Regions from separate parts of the Homo sapiens genome. Here region 2 is linked to region 1. The links come from fine-mapping of genetic effects on gene expression. Tissue or cell type: CD4 T cells. Region 1 holds a variant in brackets; the other region holds the start of a gene. All regions are shown on one strand. Distances are between the middles of the regions.

Region 1 (2,685 bases):
ATTCAACCTGACCCTTTAACACTTCTCCAATTTCTGTTTTTCAATATTTTTACGTTTTTAATTTATGTCCCATAAAATGCACAATTTTGAGCGCACATCACTGTGAATGTTTATCTACGCATACACCCATGTAACTACCCAAACCAAGATTCGCAACATTTCCACAGCCCCAGAAAGCTATCTGTGCCCCTTCCAAGTCCAAAGTAAGCATGCTTACCCAAAGGTAACTGCTATCTGACTTCCGTCATCTAGGATTAACATTGCTGATTCTTGAACTCCATTATAAATAGAATTACACAATATGTACTTTTTTATCTGTGTCTTGTTTCTTTCAACATCATGACTGTGAGGTTCACATTTCAAAAATTTGCTGTTTTTATAACTGTGTAATATTCCATCGTATAAATATGCCATAATTTGTTTACCATTCTCCTGTTGATGGGCATCTGGGTTGTTTGGAATAAAGCTGCAATAAACTTTCTTGTCCAAGTCCTTTTTGCAGCTGCTGTCTTTTGGCAATTCCAGGAAGGCCTGTGTTTTGTGTATGTGGATGCGTATTATTAAAGGAAAACCTTCTTGACAAGGCCTTGAACTCGCTGCTGGCCTCTGCCTGGGGTACCTTTGAGGATGAGCAGCTCCAAGGAGCAATGGACAGAAGCTCTAAATCACTAGTGACCAAGGGTAATGTCACATCCCCTCAATTATTTGTTTTTATTAGAGATCAGGAGAATTTGGGGGAAACCTAAAAGTGATTTTGAGCAGTTATTCTCATGCACTTATAAAGACTTTTACCTCTTGCAAAGGACCAGGGCTGGGGAAAGAGACAGAACCAGGATGTAGGTTGGGCCTCATGTACTTGGAGAATGGTATTGAACTCCCTACAGCATGTGGCCCCCAGTTAAGGGAATGGTTTTTCTATATCACAAATGGAAAATATTCTCATTTCTCTGTAATCATAGTCATAGTGTAAAGCATCCTTCGCTAGGGTTTGAATGAAAGAGGTAATCTCCTGATTTCTGCTAAAGAACTTCTCAAATCCTTCATTGCTGATGACTATGACATCCTCATAGGTGCCATTTTCCTCCTAACTTTTTTCCCAAATATTTCTGATCCACCCCAGCAATGCTACTAGTAAATATTCAGAGATTCCTAATCCTAGACTCCTCAGGCATCCTAGGTTTTAGAAGAGAAAGAGAGTTCTCTTTAGTTAAGAACTTGCTGTGGGCCAGGTACTATGTGAGGTAGTTTGCATCCATTTCATTATTTAATCTTTACAGCACAGTGAGATAGGTTTTATTATTCCCCTTTGATGGATGAGGAAACAGAAGTGCAGAGAGGTTCATTAATTTGCCCCAAATCACACAGCAGAGCCAGATTTGACCTGAGATATATTTGGCTTTCTTGCCTATAGCACATTGCTCCTTAAACTAAGTGTGTCTGGCCAGGTGCAGTGGCTCACACCTGTAATCTTAAAACTTTGGGAGGCCGAGGTAGGAGGATTGCTTGAG[G/A]CCAGAAGTTCAAGACTTGCCTAGGCAACATAGTGAGACTCTCATTTCTACAAAAACTAAAACTAAAAATAAAATAAGTGTCTCTGACCAGACCTCCTAGCCTGGCTCACACTGTCTCCATGGTACAAAACATTCATATGGTCGAAAAAAAGTATTGTCTCTCAAATGACTGTGAGATTCCACTATCCTTTTATAACTTCACGATATAGAAAATAGTCAAGCTCTTGAGGTTAAAGTAATGTAACTCAGAATCACATGTGGTCCACTGTGAAAAAGCTTAAGGTGACCCAGGGTGCAGCTGTGACTTCCAGAAACGTGGAGACCAAAGGGGAGCTACATAAGGTGTGGAAGGTGCCGAGAAGCACAGTCCCAGCTTGGGGCTGGGGCACTTCCCACCCACCCCGCGGGCTGTGATTAGCCCCCACACCCTGTCCTGGGCCCTGCACTGGCCGCTGCACACCACGCCCCTGCTCTTTGTTCCCCGGTAGCAGAGCCAGTATAATTTCATGCTTCCTAATTTCTGAGGATAGTGAATCAATTCCCCCCACCAGTTTGCCTAGAAGAAGAGCTTATTTAGACAAACGCCTCCAAGGAAACAGTTGTAGAGAGTCACTTAAGAAAACAAGAGGCTGCTAAAGGAATGCTCTGCGTGCAGTGTGGAACAATTCGCAGTCAGCATGGGCGCTCCTCGGCGGGGAGACGCTCCCGGGCAGAGTGAGCACACCTGCCGCACATCCTTCCCAAAAGGAACTCCGCTCATTCCGGACGCTGGACTGCAAATAAAAACAGCCAACGCTAGAGTCCTGGAGTCGGGGAGGGGCTGGGACAAAGGTGAATGAACTTTCCTCCTCTGGCTTCAGATCAGCCTTTAGATTTCTCAGAATGCCTGAGGTCATCTAAGTGGTCTCTAAGTTACTGTCACACCACCCCCATTTTAAGGGGGTTCAGGGCAGCGTGGCTGGTGGGACCCTCTCCTGGGACACTCCTCCAGGCGCCCCCCCCCATCCCCTGGAGGTATTGGACTGAAAACAAACTGCTCGCTTTAGGGGACAAAGGGCACTGGGGGGTTGAGGCTGCAGAGAGGGAACCCCGGGAGGAGAAATGGCCTCGGGAGAGTGGATTCCAGCTTCCATAGAAGGCTGGGAAGGAGCCACCAAGAAGCTTCACCTCCAGTCCA
Region 2 (2,685 bases), 980 kb before region 1:
CGTTCCAAAGACCCCCGTGGGTTTCAGACTAAATAGAATCCTTTGTTACGTGTCCAAAAATAACACAACACGGTATTGGTAAATTGGAAAATAATAGATAACTCTTATTTCCAAGAATGTCAGAGCTACTGGCCATAAATTTTGTTCTGCCCCAGTGAGTCCAATTTCATGCTTCTTTTAGCGAATCTACCGTCCTAACAACAGTAAAGCCAATCATATTAAACACGGTTCTCCTTTTCTCTTTCGACATTCCATTAATAAATACAAGGGCTGAAAGAAGACGCCAAGCGGGCCAGTTTCTTTATGCACAATGGTATCCTCTAAGCGAAATACCTCCAACCACAGCGAAAGTTGTCTTTCTAGCAGATGCCCACCCCAACCGGCCCAGGCAGAGGGGGCAAAGGGTAAGAGGGAAGCGTAACATCCCAGCTCTCCCACCTCTAGAGGAAGGGAAGAGGGTATGACAGAGAGCGGAGTAGGAAGGTGGGCGAGTGGGAGAGACAGAAATGGATGCTGAGGGGGTGGGCGAGATGGGAAGGTAGGGAAAGGTGGAGAATGCGGGGAGAGGTGGGTGCGCAAAGCGGCAAGATCCGAGAGCACAGCGGGGAGCGGTGGGGGGCAGCGAGGGGATCCGGGGGCGCGAAGTGGGGGGTCTGGTCCTCACCATTGAACGCCCCTGCGTCCGCGGGCGCCGCCTCCTCCTCCTCCCCGTCCTCGGAGTCGGACTGCATGGGCTCCTCGGCGAAGTTGACCCCCTTGCTGGGGGTGCCGCCCCCGGCAGCGGCGCCCAGGTCCCCCCAGGTCCTGCCCTCATGGCCGAAGCGCGCGGTGCCTTTGCGCTCGTTCTCCTGCTGCAGGCGGGTGAAGTGCTGCAGCGCGAACTCCAGCAGGTCCGCGGGCTGGTGCCTCAGCACCTCCACCGTGAAGCCCTGCAGCAGCTCCGTCAGTCCCGCCGGGATCTCGATGCTCATCCTGCCTCCGGGGCGGCAGGCGCCTGGGCGCCGCCCTCGCCCCCTCCCCGGCACGGCCTAGGGCCCCGCGGCTGCCGAGCGAGCGCCTACGGCGCTGGCGCGCTACCGGCTGCGAGCGCGGCGCACTGGGCCCCGGCGGCCCGGCTGGCCCGGCCCGCGGCTCCCGGCGCGCGTCTGCTCCGTGTGGTGGCGGCGGCTGAGCGAGCGCGGCCCCGGGAGGGCTGGCAGCATCTCCTGCTCCTCCCGCTCCAGCCGCGGCCGCGCCTCTCCCCCGCCCGGGCGCCCCGCCCCCGCCCCGCCGCGGTGCGCGGGAGGGGGCGCAGGAGAGCGCGCCCACGTGACCCCCGGAAACCATGGCAACCTCCGCTGGCTGGCGCCGCGCACCCGCCTGTCAGACCACCGCAGGGCTGCGCGCCCGGGCCGGGAGAGGCGGAGGGAGGCCCAGCGAGGCCGCCTTCGTGTCCACCTGTCCGCGCGTCCAGGAGCGGGCTGGCCACTCGCCCCGCTTCCCAGGCGTCATTCGCCATGGTGAACCCCCGCAGAGGTGGTGCCAGGAGATTTGTCTTGAAACTTCAGCCTCCACCTTAGTAGTGGCATTTTATTTTCCTTCTAGAATCTAGTTGCATGATAAGTGTTGCTAATGTCCTTTGTTTAAAGTCTTATGGTGGTACTGGTTCTCTTTTGGACAAAGAAATGCTACCCCATCTTTGTGACGTCTTTCTTTTTCTTCCCCACATTTTATCCAGCCTTTCCCGATCCATCCTGTTTATTATGTTTCGTCTTACTGATGCTATTCCGTTGTGCACTCCACGCATTTACTATTTATTGAGACAAAGGCACCATTTATTGAGAGGCACCTATCAAAGTTAGTTGATCTCTTTTAAATAGGATAGTGCAGGATGAGGCGCTTATTATTTTGAAACTTTCCTTTATGCTTTGAATGATTTTTGACTTGTATGTCCAAAAATTGAAATACTTCAGTATAAAGAAAAATAGAATTACTAATGTGTGCTTTTAAAGTAGAAGGCTTTGACTTTGAAATGAGGCTTACTTTGCAAATGTTTACAATTTTGAAGTAGAGAAAATTGTCTTTTGTCAATTAAATTCTATTTAAGTACGCATACTTCATTTTCTACAATTATCATATCATTGTAAATAAAATATTTCAAGAGCAAGCTCACTTGGTTATTCTGATTTATCTTCCCACCCACGGAAGAGTAAACACATGACTGGGGAAACTCCAAGTCTAGAAATCAGAGATGTAACGAACTAGTCCCTCTTGTAAAAATGGATCTTGATGTTAACCCTTTGTTAATGATGCATCCTGTATTGACTCCATGAGCCAATGTATTTCTCTATTTTCATTTCTTAACAACTTTATAGTAATAATGTTACGTTGCTTTAAATATACAGTAGTTAAGTGCTTCTAATTGTGTCGAGCATTTTAAGAATTAAACTTTTGGCCGGGCGCAGTGGCTCACTCATGCCTGTAATCCCAACACTTTGAGAGGCCGAGGTGGGCGGATCACCTGAGGTCAGGAGTTCAAGACCAGCCTGGCCAACATGGTGAAACCCCATCTCTACTAAAAATACAAAAATTAGCGGGCATGGTGGCAGGCACCTGTAATCCCAGCTACTCAGGAGGCTTAGGCAGAAGAATCGCTTGAATCCAGGAGGCGGAGGTTGCAGTCAACCGAGATCGTGCAGTGCCGTT

What was found. PIP is the estimated chance that this variant, and not a neighbour inherited with it, causes the effect.
Region 2: PRKAR2B starts here. The variant in region 1 is fine-mapped to the expression of PRKAR2B in CD4 T cells (BLUEPRINT, PIP 0.95).

What each region holds. Positions count from the first base shown.
Region 1 is chr7:106,065,534-106,068,218 of GRCh38, reverse strand. No RefSeq gene overlaps it. Among named protein-coding and RNA genes, the nearest start is that of SYPL1, 45 kb to the left of the region's middle. The variant G/A (reference allele first, on the strand shown) is at 1,509.
Region 2 is chr7:107,043,194-107,045,878 of GRCh38, reverse strand. PRKAR2B (protein kinase cAMP-dependent type II regulatory subunit beta) reads right to left here and starts at 1,174. Exons shown (of 11, transcript NM_002736.3): 1 at 665-1,174. The coding sequence starts at 971. RefSeq lists silencers at 781-1,075, 862-1,421.